3 linked regions of the Homo sapiens genome follow. The protein of the gene in region 2 interacts with the protein of the main gene of each other region in a biochemical or structural test. Each region holds a gene or a part of one and is shown on either strand. Other genes may lie near its edges.

The links.
Region 1: the proteins of RAD51 (region 2) and RAD52 form a complex in vitro, tested with the Homo sapiens proteins (6 studies listed by BioGRID).
Region 3: the proteins of RAD51 (region 2) and RAD51AP1 form a complex in vitro, tested with the Homo sapiens proteins (6 studies listed by BioGRID and IntAct).

Annotation. Positions count from the first base shown.
Region 1 is NC_000012.12:946,669-953,735, reverse strand, and holds the start of RAD52 (DNA repair protein RAD52 homolog), read left to right. Parts: upstream 1-4,041; 5' UTR 4,042-4,134; exon of another isoform or gene 4,135-4,333; intron 4,334-7,067. UniProt on the Homo sapiens protein: Involved in double-stranded break repair. Plays a central role in genetic recombination and DNA repair by promoting the annealing of complementary single-stranded DNA and by stimulation of the RAD51 recombinase.
Region 2 is NC_000015.10:40,691,262-40,698,198, forward strand, and holds the start of RAD51 (DNA repair protein RAD51 homolog 1), read left to right. Parts: upstream 1-3,912; 5' UTR 3,913-4,164; intron 4,165-4,270; exon of another isoform or gene 4,271-4,365; intron 4,366-4,372; exon of another isoform or gene 4,373-4,604; intron 4,605-6,937.
Region 3 is NC_000012.12:4,534,915-4,541,915, reverse strand, and holds the start of RAD51AP1 (RAD51-associated protein 1), read right to left. Parts: upstream 3,027-7,001; 5' UTR 2,977-3,026; coding exon 2,960-2,976; intron 33-2,959; coding exon 1-32. Other genes in the region: FERRY3 (ferry endosomal RAB5 effector complex subunit 3), read left to right, coding at 5,722-5,899. UniProt on the Homo sapiens protein: Structure-specific DNA-binding protein involved in DNA repair by promoting RAD51-mediated homologous recombination.

The DNA of each region.
Region 1 (7,067 bases), on a different chromosome or scaffold from region 2:
GAAATCACATTGTGTTAGTTTCCTAAAGCCATTGTAACAAATTACCACAACTGGGTGGCTTAAAACATCAGAAATTTAGCTTCTCTCAGTTCTTGAGGCTCTAAGTCCCAGATTAAAGAACTTGGCACGGCCATGTTATGAAGTAAATAATACTACAGTGGATATGTTCATGTATGTCCCTTCGTAAATTGTATGAGGACTTTTTGTACACAGGAGTGGAATCACTGGGTCGTAGACATACACTTTATTTGACTAAGTAATGACAGCTTGCTCTCACAGCAGGGGAGGATACTTCCTTGCCTCTTCCAGTTTCCGGTGGCCTCATGTTCTTTGGCTTCTGGCATAATGACTGCAATCTCTGCCTCCATCTTCAGAGGGCTGCCTTCCTTCTGTCTTTGTCTCTGTTTTCTTATTTTTATTTTTATTTTTTTTGAGACTGAGTCTCACTCTGTCGCTCAGGCTGGAGTGCAATGGCACAATCTTGGCTCACTGCAACCTCCACTTCCGGGTTCAAACAATTCTCTTGCCTCAGCCTCCCGAGTAGCTGAGATTAAAGGTATGTGCCACCATCCCCAGCTAATGTTTGTATTTTTAGTAAAGACGGGGTTTCAACATGCTGGCCAGGGTGGTCTCAAACTCCTGACCTCAAGTGATCCGCCCCCCTCCCAAAGTGCTGGGATTACAGGTGTGAGCCACCTGGCCCGGGCGTCTCCCTTCCCTCCCTCCCCCTCCCCTCCCCCTCTCCCCCCTCCCCTCCCTTCCCCTTCCCCTTTTCCCTTCCCCCTTCCCCTCCCCTCCCCTCCCCTTCCCCTCCCTTCCCTTCTCTTCCGTTCCCTTTCTTTTGAGACAGAGTTTTGTTCTTGTCGCCCAGGCTCAAGTGCAATGACTATATCTCGGCTCACTGCAAACTCCACCTTCCAGGTTCAAGCAATTCTCCTGCCTCAGCCTCCCAAGTAGCTGGGATTACAGGCACCCACCACCATGCCCAGCTAATTTTTGTATTTTTAGTAGAGACGGGGTTTTACCGTGTTGGCCAGGCTGATCTCGAACTGGCCAGGCTGGTCAAGGCGATCCTCTCGTCTTGACCTCCCAAAGTGTTGGGAGGTGTGAGGCACCGAACCCAGCCTGTTTTCTTATAACAGCAATTATATTGAAGAGGGTCTATCCTGAATTGAGTATGACCTCATCCTACTTGATTACATCTACAAAGACCCCTCTCTAATTAAGGTCACATTCACAAGTACTGGAGGTTATAATTTCTACCTGTCTTTTTGAGGAACACAATTCAACCCACAACAAAGAATAGCAGGAACTATTTTTAAAATGTAGTTTTTAGAGCTGAGCATGGTGGTGAGCACCTGTAGTCCCAGCTACTCAGGAGGCTGAGGCAGGAGGATTGCTTGAGCCCTGGAGTTTAAGACAAGCCTGAGAAACATAGTAAGAACCCCTCTCTAAAAAAAATTTTTTTAATTAGCCAGGCATAGTGTCATGCACCTGCAGTTCCAGCACTTTGGGAGGCCAAGGTGGGAGAATTGCTTGAGGCTAGGAGTTCAAGACCAGCCTGAGCAACATAGCAAGACCCTGCCTCCACCAAAAAAATGTTTTTTTACTTAGCTGGGCATGTAGCCTCTGTAATCCTAGCTACTTAGGAGACTGAAGCAGGAGGATCACTTGAGCCCAGGCATTTGAGGTTATAGCGAGCTATGACCGTGCCACTGCACCATAGCCTGGGCAGCAGAGTGAGGTGCTGTCTCTTAGAAAAAAAAGTTTTTCATAAAAAAAAAGAAAACAATATAATATATACAATAACATGCAGGTAGGTAACTTTAAAATACATTTACCCCAAAAATTATGTTTCAGAATTTATAAAATTCAGCTAAAGGAGTTCTTAGAGGAAAATTTATAGTTTAATAGTTTAAATGCCTTTACTTAAAACAAAAAAAGGTTAAAATCATAAGAAACAAAAAGAAAGAAAAGTAAAGTAAACCTAAAGTGAGCAGAAGAAAGGAAGTGATGAAGATAACAATGAAAATCAGTGAAACAAACAAATGGAAAAACAATTGTAGTAATTAATAAAACCATGAGCTGGTTCTTTGAAAAGACAGGTAAAATTAATAAACATCTAGCTGGACTAGTGAAAAAAGGAGAGGACACAAATTACCAAAATCAGAAATGAAAGGACACAACAAAGAAAACAACAGAGTGAGAGAAAATATTTGCAAACCATATATCCAATAAGGGGTTACTATCCTATTCTAAATATGTGAAGAAAGCAAACAACTCATAGCAAAATCAGATCACACGACTAAAAAGGGGGCAAAGGGCACCAGGTGCACTGGTTTACACCTGTAATCCCAGTGCTTTGGAAGGCTGAGACAGGAGAATTGCTTGAGGCCAGGAGTTGTGAAAAGCCTGGACAACATAGAAAGACCTTGTCTCTACAAAAAAATTTTAGATTAGCCAGGTGTGGTGACATATGCTTGTAGTCCCAGCTACCTGGGAAGCTGAGGTGGGAGGATCACTTGAGCCCAGGAGTTAGAGGTTGCAGTGAGCCATGATTGCAGCACTGCAGTACAGTCTGGGCAACAGCTTGATAGCTTGAGACCCTGACTCTTTAAAAAAAAAATCATTTATCAAAAGATGACATACAAATGATCAACAGGTTCATAAAAATGCTCAATATTGGCTGGGCACAGTGGCTCACACCTGTAATCCCAGCACTTTGGGAGGCTGAGGTGAGCAGATCACCTGAGGTTGGGAGTTCGAGACCAGCCTGACCAACATGGAGAAACCCTGTCTCTACTAAAAATTCCCCAGAGGCTGGGGAATAAGGGGCTGGGGGAGATAATGGGGAGATGAAGATGTTGGTCTCAGGGTACAAAGTTAACAGTTAAACAGGAGGAATACAATTTTGAGATTTATTGCACAGCATAGTGACTATAGTTAATAATAATTTATTGTATATTTCAAAATTTCTAAGAGAGTAAGTTGAAAATATCTCGCCACAAAAAGAATGATAAGTGGGCTAGGTGCAGTGGCTCATACCTGTAATCCTAGCACTTTGGGAGGCTGAGGCAAGAGGATCACTTGAGGCGAGGAGTTCAAGACCAGCCTGGGCAACATAGCAAGACCCTGTCGCTACAAAAACTTTTTTTTTTTTTTTTGAGACGGAGCCTCGCTCTGTCGCCCAGGCTGGAGTGCAGTGGGGCGATCTCGGCTCACTGCAGGCTCCGTCCCCCGGGGTTCACGCCATTCTCCTACCTCAGCCTCCCGAGTAGCTGGGACTACAGGCGCCCGCCACCACGCCCGGCTAATTTTTTGTATTTTTAGTAGAGACAGGGTTTCGCCATGTTGCCCAGGCTGGTCTCGAACTCCTGACCTCGTGATCAGCCCGCCTCGGCGTCCCAAAGTGGTGGGATTACAGGCCTGAGCCACCACGCCCGGCCCCAGGGGACATTCTAGAGGGGACTTCGCCCCCCAAGCCGCACTTCTCCATTTCCCTGCGGTCGTCGCTAACCGAAGGCGCCATCCGGTGACGACTGGATGTGCGCGGCGGTGGTGAGAGGCCGCGAGAACCACCAGGTCCACCGCTGCCTCGGCCCGGGCGGAATCTGGGAAGGTCTCTGACAACCATTCATCCTCAGATTTTCCCAATTGTGCATGGGTGGGCGGGCCCCGCATCCTAATGGGCACTGGGCATGTGAAGTGTGAACCACCCGGGCCTAACTAGCCGCTGAAGGCCTGACGAAACCGCCAGGCCCACCAGGGGGCAGCAGAGATCCGACGGCCGCGGACCGAGGGAAGCTGGCGGGAAGTAGGAGGCAGAGGGCGCGCAGGGAAGCGGCAGGGCGAGCGGCTCAGAACGTAAAAGCCAGCACCGCGCCTCCAGGTTGCTTTACGGCTGCCGCAGAAGGCTTTGCGGCTCTTTTCCCCTCCGACTTGATTTACGGTTCCTTCTCTGGTCTGTGTTTTTTTTTTTCCCCCTCCGGCGCTGGGCGTGGGTTCGGACCTTCTTCCCAGAGACGCTCGCGCACCCTTCCCATTCTCCTCTGCGCGGCCTCCATCTAAGATCTCTTCCCCTTGTCCATAGCCTAGATCGAGCTCCCTGTGTGCACCGCGCGCTGCCCGAGGCGCGTAAGTGGGGGAGGAGAGCGGCTTCCCCCGGGGTGGTTCTAGCCGTGGGTGTGGAGCGTGGGAAGGCTCAGCTTCCGGGTCGAGAACCTGGGGCTGCGGTGGACCTGATCCTGAGGTCTCAGCGTAGAGATGCTGAGTCCAGAGGCCTGTTCTAGTTCACCAGTGCAGTGAGGGGCTCAGTATCCGGGCCTCCCGAGAGGTGGGTAGGAAGGCGGGGTACAGGAAACTTGGCACCAACGCGCCGGGACCCCACCGCGGTGCGGACAGCCAGGTGTCCGTGGTGGCGCTTCCTTGGAGATGCTGCCTGCAGACAGGCGTGGGGAATCTGAAGTTTGTGTTAATAGCTAAACGAAGTTGAGTTGCAGGGAGCGGGGGACGCTGGGAAGAAATGATTGATTTAAAAGGAATTTGACGCCGGGCATGGTGGCGGCATGCCCCCATGTTCCCTGGAGGTCAAGCCTGCAGTGAGCCGAGATCGCACCCGTACCACGACACTCCGTCCCGGGCGACAGAGCGAGACCCTGTCACGGGGGAAAAAATAAAAATAAAAATTTGACGCTCACTTTAGCTGAGTATTGAGCCTTGTTATAACATTGAGATAGAGGTCTGGCGCGGCGTCTCACACCTGTAATCCCAGAACTTTGGAAGGCCGATGCGGGAGGATCGCTTGAGGCCAGGAGTTCTACGCCAGCCTGGCTAACATAGCGAAACCCCGTCTCTACTAAAAATACAAAACTAGGCAGGCCTGGTGGCGGGCGCCTGTAATCCCCGCTACTCGGGAGGCGGAGGCATGAGAATCGCTTGAACCCAGTAGGCAGGTGTGCCGGTAAGCCGACATCGCACCACTGCACTCCAGCCTGGGGGACAGAGCGAGAATCCATCCAAAAAAAAAAAAGTTATAATTCACGTACAATTAAATTCACTCCCTTTTTTAAAAAAAAGTGGAGACATAGTCTCGCTCTGTTGCCCAGGCTGGAGTACAGTGGCGCCGTCTCGGCTCACTGCAACGTCCGCCTCCTGGGTTCAAGCGATTCTTTGCTTCAGCCTCTCAAGTAGCTGGAATTACAGGCGCATACCACCACACCCAGCTACTTTGTATTTTTCACCATGTTGGTTAGGCTGGTCTCGAACTCCTCGCCCTTCCAAAGTTCAGGGATTACAGGTGTGAGCCACCACACCCAGTCTAAATTCACCCTTTTAAAGTGTGCAATTCAGTGGTTTTAATATATTCACAAGGTTGTGCAATCACCACTATTATCTAATTCCAGAACATTTTTATCATCCCTAAAAGAAACCTTAAAACCATTAGCAGACACCCATTATTTCCTCCTACTCCCAGCAGCACTAATCTATGAATTTACCCATTCTCAGTACTGTATTATACAATATTTGTTCTTTTGTGTTTGGTTTATTTCACTTCATGATTCAAAGTCCATCTATGTTGTATGTAGCATGTATCAACTTCATTTTTTAAATAACTGAATTATTTATTGTGTGGATATACCACATTTTGTTTCTCCATTTTTGATGGATACTGGTGATTTTCTAGGCTTTCTAGGTCTAGTCCTCCACAGAACTCGCAGTCTGAGGCACAGACATTTAAAACTTAAGTTTTTGGAAACTAGCATTTAACTCTTGGGTTGGGTCAGGTAATTCAGTGGCCTCAGGTCTGGTATCGTTTAGGGCAGTTTTTTTTTTGTTTTTTTTTTTTTTTTGAGATGAAGTTTCACTCTTGTTGCCCAGGGTGGAGTGCAATGGCGTATCTGGGCTCACTGCAACCTCACCTCCTGGGTTCAAGCGCTTCTCCTATCTCAGCCTCCTCGGTAACTGGGCTTACAGGCGCATGCCACTATGCCCGGCTAATTTTTGGTATTTTTAGTAGAGACAGGGTTTCACCATGTTGGCCATGCTGGTCTCGAACTCCTGACCTCAGGTGATCCACCCATCTCGGCCTCCCAAAGTGCTGGGATTACAGGTGTGAGCCACCGCGCCTGGGTGGGAGTTTTGTTTTTTTGTTTGTCTGTTGTTTTTTGGGGGGACAGAGTTTCTCTCAGCCTCCTCGGTAACTGGGCTTACAGGCGCATGCCACTATGCCAGGCTAATTTTTGGTATTTTTAGTAGAGACAGGGTTTCACCGTGTTGGCAATGCTGGTCTCAAACTCCTGACCTCAGGTGATCCACCCGCCTCGGCCTCCCAAAGTGCTGGGATTACAGGTGTGAGCCACCACACCTGGGCGGGAGTTTTGTTTTTTTGTTTGTCTGTTGTTTTTTTGGGGGGACAGAGTTTCGCTCTTGTTGCCCAGGCTGGACTGCAGTGGCGAGATCTTGACTCACTGCCACTTCTGCCTCCTGGATTCAAGCGATTCTCCTGCCTCAGCCTCCCGAGTAGCTGGGATTACAGGTGTGCACCACCACACCCGGCTAATTTTGTATTTTTAGTAGAGAAGGGGTTTCTCCATGTTGGTTACGCTGGTCTCGAACTCCCTACCTCAGGTGATCCTCCCGCCTTGGCCTCCCAAAGTGTTGGGATTACAGGCGTGAGCCACTGCGCCCCTCTGGGAGTGTTTTTTAAAGTGTTCTATTCTCAGTTCACCACTTACCAGGCCGTTAATTATCGTGGTATCAAGCAGAGAAATGTTTGTGTGCTGGTCTTCTCAGGGAGGCAGAAACCGTCAGAGATTGCTGTTGTGTAATGTACACCAAAACGTGTTATCTTGTAGTATAAACGGTGTAGTTGGAGATGAGTGTATGAAAAATGTAACTGAGCTAGCTGTGGGAGAGACTAGTTGTGAAAAATTTTGAGTCACCCACTGTATGCTTTCCCAGCTATGTTCAAATAAGGTGACACTCTGCCTTCCTGTTTCAGCTCTAAAACTGTTCATAAGTGTTATTTTGGCTGTATACGTAGTGCCATGTTTTTTTGTATTTTTGTG
Region 2 (6,937 bases):
AACAGAAACTACTCAAACTAGTTTAATCAATAAAAATAGAAGGTAGAGTTATTGGAATGTAGGGATATCTCATAACTCAAGAGCATTAATCCTTAAGAGTTCAAGGTTTTTTTTTTAAAAAAAAAAAAAAAGTAAAAAAGAACCCAAGAGCAGGAGGAGTAAGTACTGCTAGGCTTCTGAGAAACTGGAAAGGCGATCTGGAAAGGAGTCAGAATTCAAATGGTTTATTTATCTTTGACTCTCTCCTTAGTATCTCAATTTCTTTTTCTTTTTCTTTTTTTTTTTTTTTTTGAGACAGAGTCTTGCTCTGTCATCCAGGCTGGAGTGCAGTGGCACGATCTCAGCTCACTGCAACCTCTGCCTCCCAGTTTCATGCGATTCTCCTGCCTTGGCCTCCTGCGTAGCTGGAGGCTAATGTTTGTATTTTTAGTAGAGATGGGGTTTCACCATGTTGGTCAGGCTGGTCTCGAACTCCTGACCTCAGGTGATGCGCCTGCCTCAGCCTCCGAAAGTGCTGGGATTACAGGCTTGAGCCACCACACCCGACATCAATTTCTTAATCTTTCTGCAGATGTGCTTTCTCTGATTGGACATTCACACACATCTATCTGTGTACTTTGCCCCATAAATTCCTGAGGTCAGACTTGAATATAAAGCCAAGTCTAATTTTCCAGGAGCAGGAAAATGATTGGCCAATTTGGGGCCAGATGAACACTGCTGGTACAACTGGTGGCCAGAAAGGTAAAAGTCATGTGACTACAGTCAGCTAGGAGGAGGGCTGTAGGTTTGCAGATGCTCTAAGGGTGTGGGAAGAACCGGAGGCAAAGGTGTGTAACTTTGATATGGAAGAAAGTTCACTATTATCACAGGTAGTATCTATAATCACTAAGTTAGGTTGTTTCTACATCCAGAAAGCTGCCTGAGTCTGTTCTCTCTGTCATTCCTCTAATTCAGAGGACCCCAACGCCCCAACACAGACCTGTCGCCTATTAGGAACTGGGCTGCACAGCAGGTGAGCAGCTAGCAAGCAAGCATTACTGCCTGAGCTCTGCCTCCTGTCAGATCAAGGAGAGCATTAGATTCTCACAGGAACTCAAAACCTATTTTGAACTGCACCTGTGAGGAATCTAGATTGCACACTCCTTATGGAAATCTAATTGATGATCTTGAGGTGCAACAGTTTCATTCCGAAACCATCCTCTGCCTCATGCCCACCCCCCGAGCCCTGTGGAAAATTGTCTTTCACAGAACAGCTCCCTGGTGCCAAAAAGGTAGAACTGGAATCTAATCCAAATCTTCATCTCTTTGTTGAAATATTGCAAGAACTTCCTTTTTGGTGTCTTCACTTTCACGCTCCTGAAATCTGTTCTTCAACGCCACAAGGTAATAGTGTGAGGATTAACTAAAAACTTTGTCAACTTTAAAGCACTCCACAAATATAAAGTAGTAATAAGGCCATTGCAATGGTTCACACCTGTAATTCCAACACTTTGGGAGGCCAAGGTGGGAGGATCACTTGAGGCCAGGAGTTCAAGGCCAACTTGAACAGAGCGAGATGCTGTCTCAAAAATAAAAAAATAAGGCCGGGTGCGGTGGTTCACACCTGTAATCCCAGCACTTTGGGAGGCCACGGTAGGTGGATCACCTGAGGTCAGGAGTTCGAGACCAGCCTGGCCAACATGGTGAAACCCTGTCTCTACTAAAAATACAAAAAATTAGCTGGGCGTGGTGGCAGGCGCCTGTAATCCCAGTTACTTGGGAGGCTGAGGCAGGAAGACTCGCTTGAATCTGGGAGGTGGGGTTGCAGTGAGCTGATACCACGTCCCTGCACTCCAGCCTGGGCAACAGAGCAAGACTCCATCTAAAATAAATAAATAAATAAATAAATAAAAATAAAAATAAATTGGTAAGTGGAGGGAAAATAGATCTAACCAAATGACTTGTCTTCTTAAAAACTTCAATGATTTCTTCAGTACCTAGAGACCAAAGCTCCTTACCTTTTTTTTTTTTTTTGAGACGGAGTCTTGCTCTGTTGCCCAGGCTGGAGTGCAGTGGCGTGATCTCGCTCACTGCAACCTCCACCTCCCGGGTTCAAGCACTTCTCTGCCTCAGCCTCCCAAAGAGCTGGGATTACAGGCATGCACCACCACGCCCGGCTAATTTTTGTAGTTTTAGTAGAGATGGGGTTTTGCCATCTTGGCCAGGCTGGTCTTGAACTCCTGACCTCGTGATCCGCCCACCTTGGCCTCCCAAAGTTCTGGGATTACAGGCTTGAGCCACCGCGCCTGGCCTCTCCTTACATGTTTTGTTGTTGTCGCTTGTCTTTTGAGACAAGGTCTCACTCTGTAGCCCAGGCTGGAGTGCAGTGGCCCATCATAGCTCACTGCAGCCTTGACGTCCTGAGCTCAAGCAGTCCTCCCACCTCAGCCTCCGGGATAGCTGAGACCACAGGCACAAGCCACCACGCCCAGCTTATTTTTTTTTTTTTTTTTTTTGAGATATGGGGTCCCACTATGTTGCCCAGGCTGGTCTCCAACTCCTGAGCTCAAGCGATCCTCCCCCACCTTGGCTTCCCAAAGTGCTGGGATTACAGGTGTGAGCCACCGTGCAGGCCTTATATGATCTTCATATCCTGAACTAAATGTAACCTTCCAGTTTCGGCACTTGCTCTGGCACTTTTCCTCCCTCGCCAGATAATACTAATCTTTAATCATGTAGTTCGTTTCCATGCCCATACTACCCTATTTGCTTATAATGTCTTCCACTTCGCCCAAGAATCCCTACTCAGCTAGCTTGTGGTGTTGTTTTGACACAGTCTCGCTCTGTCGCCCAGGCTGGAGTACAGCGGCGAGATCTCGGTTGGCTGCAACCTCCTCCTGAGTTCAAGCGATTCTCATGCCTCAGCCTTTCGAGTAGCTAGGATTACAGGCATGTGCCACAAAACCTGGCTAATTTTTGTATTTTTTACTAAAGACGAGGTTTCACCACGTTGGCCAGGTTTATCTCCAACCCCTGACCTCAGGTGATCCGCCTGCCTTGGCCTCCTAAACTGCTGGGATTACTGGCGTGAACCACCGCGCCCGGCCCTACTCAGCCTTTAAAACCGGAATCACGGGTCAAAACTTTCTGGTAAACCACGATACGGTTTAGGTTATGAAATTCAATGCCCCCTTCCTCTGAACTCCTGCAAATCTCCAGTAAAGCACCACAGATTGACGAATATTCCAGCCATTTCCCTCTCCCGTACGCTAGCTCCATTTCCCACTTCTATCCATCTTCTCGAGCTTCCTCAGCTCCTCCACCTCCATGAGGCCTGGAAAGCACCTTGCTCCAGGAATGCGAGTAGGAGGCTCAGAGCGACCAGAAGTGCCAAAAGCTGACATTCAGATACTGCCGAAACAAACCACAAGAGCGCTAGGGCCCCCGCTAATAGTCCAGCTGCGATGGTGAGAACTCGCGGACCCGCCGGCGATGCATGCCGGGAGATGTAGTCCCGGGCCGACGCATTACCTCTTGGGAGTCGTGGTCTTCGATCTGGTAAACAGAAGACGGCAACTCGGTTAAGTCTTCCCCCACCGCCCCCTGAAATCCCTCGCCCCACCCGCGAGGGACTGGGGTAGGAGTAGGGGCGTTGCCGTGGTTAGCCTCGAACTCCTAGGCTCAGACGATACTCTCGCCTCGGCCTCCCGAGCAGCTGGGACTACACGCGTGAGCCACCGCCCCCGGCATAAAGTTTGAATTAGTCCTTACGCAAAAAGGGAAGAGGGCAGTCTGTAAACTCGCGCAGGATCAAGCTCTCGAGCTCCCGTCTTGGGTTAGCGCGCAGGGCGGAAGCGGGGAGAAGGCGGATCCGGGAGGCGGGGATACGTTACGTCGACGCGGGCGTGACCCTGGGCGAGAGGGTTTGGCGGGAATTCTGAAAGCCGCTGGCGGACCGCGCGCAGCGGCCAGAGACCGAGCCCTAAGGAGAGTGCGGCGCTTCCCGAGGCGTGCAGCTGGGAACTGCAACTCATCTGGGTTGTGCGCAGAAGGCTGGGGCAAGCGAGTAGAGAAGTGGAGCGTAAGCCAGGGGCGTTGGGGGCCGTGCGGGTCGGGCGCGTGCCACGCCCGCGGGGTGAAGTCGGAGCGCGGGGCCTGCTGGAGAGAGGAGCGCTGCGGACCGAGGTGAGTGTGTGAGGCGCAGGCTGGGCCCTCCAGAGCCGCGGCTCGTCCTCGCCCACCTGCGTCCTGGCCGGTCCAGTGCTCAGCGGCAGTTGGGGCCTCCGCGCGCAGTGTGAAACCCGGACGTGGCAGGGCGTGTCCGCGCCCGACCGACCCTCAGCTGCTGGGGCGAAAACACAAGTGGACCTCAGTCTTTAGAACTAGGGGAGAAACATTAGAGCCTTTATAGGCAACACCTATTTTATGGGTTCGAGCGAGAAGTCCGAGATCAGAGCGGTGTAGCCACAGCTGTTTAATATCACAGCCAGGGCTTCCGGATTCCTGATCTGTCTTTCCATTACACCGTGCTTAGAAAGTACCAATCTCCGATTGCCAAAACAGTGTTTTCATCATCTAATGCGGAAAACCATTCACATGATGCCTAGAGAATGATCTGAAGTGAGGTTTGGTTTTCTTAAAACTTTTTTTTTGAGATGGAGTCTCGCTCTTCCGCCCAGGCTGGAGTGTAGTGGCGCGATCTCGGCTCACTGCAACCTCCGCCTCCCGGATTCAAGCGATTCTCCTACCTCAGCCTCCCGAGGAGCTGGGATTACAGGCCCCCACCACCACGCCGCCAGGCTGATTTTTGTATTTTTAGTAGAGACGGGGTTTCACCATGTTGGTCAGGCTGGTCTCGAACTTCTGACCTCAGGTTATCCACCCGCCTCTGCCTCCCAAAGTGCTGGGATTACAGCCGTGAGCCACAGCGCCTGGCCCCTGTTTTTTTGTTTGTTTGTTTGTTTTTAACTTCTAAAGCGCAATGTAATATACATGTAGAAAAATTCACATTCACAACTGTATACAACTCCGTGAATTATTACAAAATATACTGGCCGGGCGTCGTGTCTCACGTCTGTAGTCCCAGCACTTTGGGAAGTGGAGGCGGGAGGACGATTGAGCCCAAGAGTTCGAGAACAGCCTGGTCAAGATAGTGAGACCCGCATCTCTACAAATAGGAAAAATTAGCTAGGCATGGTGGCGTGCACCTGTAGGCCCAGCTATTCAGGAGGCTGAGAAGGGAGGATCTAGCCTGGGAGGTATAAGCTGCAGTGAGCTGTGATCAGGCCACTGCACTCCAACCTGGGCGATAGAGCAAGACAAAATGAATATACACCTATGTAATCACCACTTAATAGAATGGTCCTCAGAAGCCTTCCTGTGTAGTATTTAATATTTTCCCCTTTTTACAGTGGTAACTGCTATACTGGTTTCTAATGAGATGAACTAATGTTGCTTGTTTTTGAATTTTATATAAAAATACATCAGGAGTGTTGAGTGTTTCGTTGTTTCACATGCTTGCCAACACGATATTTTTCAGCCTTTTTGATTTTAACTATTCTGCTGGTTACACAGTAATGTCTTAATGTGATTTTAATTTTCCTGATTAATAATGATGTTGGACATCTGTTCATATGTTTTTGCCCATTTTGATATCTTCTGTGATGTGCTTGTTCAAATCTCTTGCCTATTTTTCTATTATCTTTTTCTTACTGATGTGAAGTTCTTTATATACTGGTTATCAGCCCTCAGTTATGTTTGTGCTAAATGTTTTCTCTACTGTGGTTTGACTTGTCACTCTCTTAGTGGTGTCCTTTGATGAATAGAAGTGCTGAATTTATTTTTTTATTATTTATTTATTTATTTATTTTTCCTTTTGAGACAGAGTTTGGCTCTTGTTGCCCAGGCTGGAGTGCAATGGCACAATCTTGGCTCACCGCAACCTCCGCCTCCCGGGTTCAAGCGATTCTCCTGCCTCAGCCTCCCGAGTAGCTGGGATTACAGGCATGTGCCACCACGCCCAGCTAATTTTGTATTTTTCTTTAATAGAGACAGGATTTCTCCATGTTGGTCAGGCTGGTCTTGAACTCCTGAACTTAGGTGATCTGCCCGCCTTGGCCTCCCAAAGTGCTGGGATTGCAGACGTGAGCCACAGTGCCCAGTAGAAGTGCTGAATTTAAATGTAGTTCAGTTTTCAGTCTTTTCCTTTTTGGCTAGTGCGTTATGCATCCAGTTTCAAGAAATCTTTTTCTGTCCCAAGGTTGTGAAAATAATAAGTGTTACTTTGTTTTTGACAGACGATTGTACATATTTATGAGATACAAGATGATATTTCTTTTTTTTTTTTTTTTTTTTTGAGACGGAGTCTCACTCTGTCGCCCAGGCTGGAGTGCAGTGGCGCGATCTTGGCTCACTGCAAGCTCCGCCTCCTGGGTTCACGCCATTCTCCTGTCTCAGCCTGCCACCACGCCCAGCTAATTTTTTGTATTTTTTAGTAGAGACAGGGTTTCACCATGTTAGCCAGGATGGTCTCGATCTCCTGACCTGGTGATCCACCCGCCTTGGCCTCCCAAAGTGCTGGGATTACAGGCGTGAGCCACTCCACCTGGCCCAAGATGATATTTCAATACATATATACATTGTATAATGAATGATCAAATCAGGGTAATCAGCATATCCATCAGTTCACTTAAACACTTGTCATTTCTCTTTGTGATGAGAACATTCAAAATACTCGCTTCTGGCTATTTTGAAGTATACATTACATTAGTGTTTACTGTAGTCACCCTACTGTGAAATAGAACCCTAGAACTTATTCCTCCTATCTAACTGAAACTTTGTGCCTGTTGACCAACCTCTCTCCTTCCTGCCGCCCCCTGCAACAGCTGCATTCTCCTCAGTCTCTGGTTACCACTGTTCTATTTGTTCCTTGTATGAGATGAACTTTTTTTTTTTTGTT
Region 3 (7,001 bases), on a different chromosome or scaffold from region 2:
CAAACTGTGAGTAATTGACTGGTTTCTTATGTCTATGACCAAAACAGAATTTTTTCATTAACACAAATGTCAATTTCTCACCACTATTACTTAAGGCTATTAATGAATATTATTTATTTATTTAATATTATTCATTTATTAATAAATAATGAATAAACGAAATAAATAAAAATGTGTTAAATGAAATGTGTTTCAATAAATGAAAATGTGTTTGGGTTCAAGTAAGAATATTTAACTCTAAAACATGATTTGCATTTTACCGCGGGGATTTATCATTAGCTAAAATAGTTACAACTATACCTGATATACCTGGGTATTGTTGGCTTTTCAATTATATGATAAAGGAAAAAAATTCAGGTAACTTACAAAGAATAATCTACATAATTAACATTTATAATTGCTATACTGTTTAATTGCTGTTGGGCATTTGTAAGTTCCCGTTGTACGTGTTCTTCTGTTTTGTGTGTGCATTCTATCTTCCTTACTAGATTATAAATTTCTTGACACTAAAAGCTACTTTCTTTTCAATCTCTCCACCATACCAAATAACATTTTTATGCAACGGACACTTAAAAATGGTGAGTGACCTTGTTCCTACCACCTGAGATGAGTATCCCTTATCTGAAATGCTTGGAACCAGAAATGTTTTGAATTTTGGATTTTTTCAGATTTTGGAATATCTGCATTATATACTTACCAGCTGAGCATCCCAAATCTGAAAATCTAAAATCTGAAGTGCTCCAATGAACATTTCCTTTGAGTGCCATGTAGGTACTGCAAAAGTTTCAAATTTTGGAGCATTTCAAATTTGGGATGCTCAACTTGTACTACTTCAGAGGGCATTAGAAGAAAATGATATTCAAAGTGAAAAAAATAATTTTTTCCTCCCTCCTCTAGGCACTAAATAAAATGTTTTTCTAGTTTTTATTTCTATATTTTTGTCAAATGGCTAAATGTGAATAACCTAATTTGTCAGCTGGTTGTTCTTTCAAGTAAAAAGAATGTTCTATGAAAAAGAGGTAGTAAGCTCAGCTCACAACTCAGACAATCTCACAAGTGCTTTTCCTTGAGATAACTATCACGCATCAGTATACAGAAGTGCTTTATGTGTACTTCCTGTTTCCTCACGCAAACTATTAAAAAGTGCACTCATATTACTCTCTTACTCTTCAGAGTTAAAGAAGTTAGAGCTGAATAAAATGTGAAAACCCCTTTATAAATTCTGAACTTGAATAATAGTAAAATAAAATCAATAGCCTATTTTTAATTAGTATACTTAAGGGTTAAGCTATGATGAATATAATAATTTCCACTACTTCATCAAGCATATTCTTAACTGAAATGATTTTTTTTTTTTTTTTTACTTTTAAGAGTATGGCAGTAAACATTGCAAAGACTAGTAGTACAATTTAGTGCCACTGCCTTAATTGTTCTGAGGTGCCAGCAGTTTTATCGGGGTCACTGCAGTGCAAATGACAAAGCAGCGAAAAAGGCAAATCATATCTTAGTATTGTTATGAAAGGAGTTTTGACCTCATAGACCTCTAGAGAAGTTTCCAGGGACCCACAGAGGTCTGTAGACCATACTTTAACAACTGCTGTTCCTTACAAAGGGATTATGACTCCACTGCCTGGATGCTTAAAACCCATTTCAAATTCAGCATGTTCGAAACAGAAATCTTGATCCCTCACACCTCCTAACCTTCCTTTTCCTAGTCTTCCCTATCTTAATACAAAGATCATCCATCCTGTAGCTCAGACCAAAACTATTGTGGAGTCATCTCTGATTCTTTCTTTCCCTTACCTGTACATCTACTTCATCAGCAAGTTCTGTCCACAGTGCCTCCGAAATACATCCCAAATTCATCTGTTCCATTCCATGCCCACTAATAATACCCTATCCCAAACCGCTCTCCAATGATATAATACCTGATTTTCCTGCTCCCGTTCTGGTCACCCTATCCATCATTTATTCTCCACCAACAGCCAGTGACCTTTATAAAAGCAAACTTAGATTCCTCTCCCCTACTTAAAACCCTCCACTGACTTCCCATTGACTTAAAATAAAACCTAAACTCCTTTCTAAGACTTACAAGACCCTATCTGTTCTGGCACCTGCCTATTTCTCTGGCCTAATCCCCCTACGATTCTCCCCACTGCTTGTTAATCCTATAGCATTAGACTGTCCCTAAAATATGGTCAAGTATGGGGCCTTGGCTCCTATTCCCTCTACCCTGATTCATGACTCAGTGCATGCATTATCGCCTCAGAGTCACATATTAACTACTATATTTAAAGTAGTGCTTTCCTCTTTCGCACTCTCATATTTCGAGGCTTATTTTCGGCCCCCTAACCTCACCTCCCACTGGAATGTAACCTCCAGCACCTCGTACACTAAAGAAGTGAATATATTCAATAACTTTATTAAATGAATGGCTAACTATAGGCTTCCATGGCACTCAACTGTGTAAATAGAAGAATCGTTTCTAATACCACGATGGAAAGCACAGAGGATCTTGAGTGAGATGACTTAGGTTTGAGTATTGCCCTGCCACTTACTGGGCTGTATGACTCAGATAACTTACCCTCTATACGTAGAAATGTTAAATCAATACAACAGGAATGCTTACTCTTTCTATATCAAATAACTACAGTGATAAACAAATAAAATAACACATAATTGGGCGCTCGGTGAAATGTAAAGCGCTGTTCAAACGCTAACAAGGTCTTGGTAAAAGAAACGGCGACGGTTGTGAAGGGAGGCAAAGAGAAGGAAAAAGCTACGATGCTAGGATACTTCTGAGCAACGGGTGGCTCTCACTGGAGACTGGGTTCTTGATAACCGTCCATCCTAACCCCACCATCGCTGCCCTCCGGTCTTACTCGATCCTTTCCCCTTAGTCTCATGTCTTTTCCCTTAGTTTTCCTCCCACCCCCGACGAATGTCAGGAACTACCCACCTCACAGGCCGCACCATGGTCCCTTTCAAGGCTTGGTATTTACAGTTCTCAAATTCTTGTTGGCTTCAGCGGCGGTTTCAATTCCCGCCCAAAACCAGACTTCGGAGCCCTCCGCCCCCTGTTACCAGTCGTCCAATCATCACCAGCCATGCTTGCGGCGGCGCACGCGCTGTGGGGAAAGCGAATTTGCTCCCGCCCTCCCCAAGGCACCGCTTTTCCGTATCCGGTCCACCAGAGCCGAGTTTGTGCTTTGTCCCTGCACTTTCGTCACAACGGCGGATTTGCCCTGTCTCTGAAATACAGAATAACAATAGAAATACACCTTATTGCACCTTTCAAATTGTTAAATTGAAACAGGTTGGGACATAGGGGCACTTGGACTGAGAAATTTTCTACAAGATGCCAGGAAATAGAAAAGGATGTGGCGAATCTACGTTCGCGGATCCGCGGTGTGGAAAAAGTATGTCGGCAAGTCAGCTGGTTTCCCAGTGCAGGACGCGCTGACAGCTCGAGTGAGCGGACTGCCCAGGACTTCGGAACTAGACGAGGTGAGCCCAGAACCGAGTGAGGATGCCCTTTCAGACTGACAACCGTTACAGAGGGATTAGTCCCCTCACCCGGCTGAAGTTTCTCAGCTCGACCGTCTGTCTTCCTTTTCCCTGATTAATGTGAGCCTCAGAGCCTCCGCTCTGTTGGCTGTGTGTGTTCGGTCCAGACCTTCCATCCCATTTTCTTATGGGAAACCTTCCTGGATTTCACGGTTGCTAAAACTGAACCCAGGCTTCAGGATAGACCATTAGTCTAAAAAAAGAGCGAGAGGAGAAAGAACTAAAGTTATCAGTTTCTTGAAACACAAGTCTAAATGTTGAACCAGAGCTTTTGTGTCTGCCTTCTCTTTTTTTTTTCAACATTCCTGATTCATTCATATTTTTGCATTTATCAGTGGTTGATTCTTTTTTATTGCTGTGTAGTATTTATCTCATAAAATAAACAAGTTTACTATTCTCCTACTAATACGCATTTTGGTTGTTTCCAGTTTGGGGTATTATAAATAAAACTTATATGAGCATTCTTCTGGGTGTACTTTAGCGAACATATGCGTGTGTGTGTATTTGGATATATACTTAGGAATGAAATTTCTACATCATAGAATATACCTTTATGTAGTTTTGGTAGTTTTCTAACATTATAAAAATTTGTATTGCTTTACGTTTAATTTTAATTCTTTCTGAGTAAAACAAATACCCTATCTCTTTGCATTATGGTGAAATAGACGAAGATTTTTGTGTATAGCCTACATACAGATTTGAAAATATAGTCTGGATAATTCAACTTAGCCCCGCCCCACGACATGTACAAAAGTCCTTTGAGTTTTTTTTATATTTCAGGTGATATCTTTTTAAATAACCGTATGAATAATTTTTTGTTCTTTATTTTTCCAGTGAGCACCATAAAATAAAAACGCCATACAATCCAACAATTATTTATTAGTTCTTGCCATTCGCAACATCCTGCCTAATACATGGAATACAAGACAGTATTCCTTCCACTTCAAGAAGACTGTTTTCTAGCCAAGAGTAAGAAATAGAGCGTGATAAGTGCCATGATTCAAATAAGTCTAGGCTAATATGAGAGCCTGTCGGGACCCAATCCAGTTTTAGGGAGTTGGATAAGTCTTCCTAGAGGCTTAACTGAGACCTGAAGAATTAGCAATTGTTATCCAATGAAATTAAGATCAGTAAGAGTGCTCTAGGCAAAGGAAAAGGCATTCAAAAAGATTCGGCATGGAAGGAGAAGTTTGGTGTTGACAGAAGTTCAGAATGGCTGGAAAATAAAATTTGTGAATTTGTGTATTAGGAAGGAGAGGTGCAGTTTCTGAGAGAAGAGTGGAAATATAAGCAGGGGTGTTGTAAACTGGGATAAAGAGTTTGCATTTTATCCTGAGAGCAATGGAATGTCATAGAAAGTTTTTAAGCGGATGAACAACATGATCAGATAAGTATATTCCTTTTTTAAAAAGGAAGATTACTATAACTTCAGTGTAGAAAATAATGTAAGAACTGATTTGATGGGAGAAAGCCTAGCCATAGGAAGTCCAGTTACAAGGCTGATGAATAAATAAATCTTTAATTGATGTTGATTCTTACTGCCTTTAACTAGATTTTCTTCTTCCTTAGTAGTGTCTAGTTTGCCTTTGGGGTGTGGGCCGGAAGTGGAGGTCCTGTACTCTCTCTTTTCTGTGTATCTTCTTCCCACATGGAAATCTTTCTAACACTTTCTTACTCCCCTTCCCCCAGTCGGATCTCATGACCACAACCTCTAAGTTCTCCAGGATCACTCCTTGGTCCCTGATCTGCTTCTTTGACTTTCTTTTTACCAACGGTTTCTTAAGCTTTGTATTTCCCCACCCATGAACTCTCCCTAAGAATTCTCTCTGCTCTTCTCTCCATGGTCCTTCCCTATTATTGAGAACCCTGCCTTGGAATATAAAGTACTTTATGGCCATAATTTTTTTTCTTAAATCAAGTTTAAAACAAAGTGTCTTTTTTTTTTTTTTTAAAGAAGCACTTTGTTTTCATCATGAAGATGGAAGTACAGGGATAAACACTTGGGAAAAACTAGAATAATTGGCTCATAGACAAAATCTCTTGAATGGTGGAATGTTTTCTTAGAAATGGGACAGCAATAATGAAACATAATTTCTTTATGGACTTATAACCTACTGCTTTTTTGTTAGTTCTGTAGAAATCCTGTCAAAGAATATGAAGAAAAACAGAGAAAGATTCTGCAATAGAGAGAGAGAATTTGTATATAAATTTAAAGTAGGAAGTCAGTGCTTAGAACTGAGAGTGCCACTCAAATTTCCTGTTCAAGAGAATGCCAGTCATTTGCATGGACGTCTGATGCTGCTGCACAGTTTACCGTGCTTTATAGAAAAAGGTGAGGACTGTTTTTTTTTTTAAGTAACACCACTTTATTAGTTTCAATAGTCTGTCATTGGAAGTTTCATATTAGAAAGCATAAACCTAAGAAGCTTTGGAAACAGCCATAACATAGGAACTGATTCCAAGAATAAAAACATTTCTCCAGAGCTTTCTTTTATTGAGTGTTTTTTCCTATAAGTGGTAGTTGTTTATAAAATATAAAAATTAGATTTTATAATGAAAAATTAGCTACAAAGTTTGGAATTAGAGGAGCTCTTCTGAATTTAGTTGGGTGAAGTTATAAGGCAGTTTAGCTATCGCTAATTGTGCTAATAGAATTATAGTGCTAAATTGGTTGCCCTTTTAATAATCTGGTCATTAATTTCTGAGATGCCATAGAACAGAAAGTGTACTAATTTTTGAATAGTCTTTGCTTACCTAAATTAGTTTTATAAAGTTAGATGTATTAAACCATTTTTAAAGGTCTGTGCTCTATCTCACAGTCTAGGAAAAATTTAAAATTCAGAATATGTTAGATCACAGGTTAGAGTTATAAGAGAACCTAGAAACTTTATAGCCCAATCACATTGTACAAACAAGGAAACTGGAACATAAAGAGGTTAAATTATTTACCCTAGGCAGTGGTTCTTGAAATATGGTTTCTAATCATTTAGCAGCAACAGCATCACCTGCAAGCTTGTTAGACATGCAAATTCTCGGGCTGCATCCCATTTCTGCTGAATCAGAAACTAGGGTAGCATGTGGCAGTCTGTTTAAATAAGGCCTCCAGGGGTTTCTAATGCACACTTAAGATTGTGAACCACAGTCTAAAGTCGCGAACATAGTGATAATAATAGAGCCAAAGCCAGAACACAGGTGTCCTAACTTCTCTCTCAGTGCTCTTCCGTTATATCATTCTCTAAGTGGTGTCTGTAAAACTGAAATCGGTCAGTCATCTAAGTTAAATGTGTTAATAAGCTAGTCATTTAACTTCTCTTTCAAAGGATGTAACAATGTACCCTTTAAAGTTACATGGAAAACTCTTTTTAATGTAAATACAGTAATGTTCAGACCTTCAAAATCTGTAGCATTTTCTTTATGTCCTTATACCCACTTGG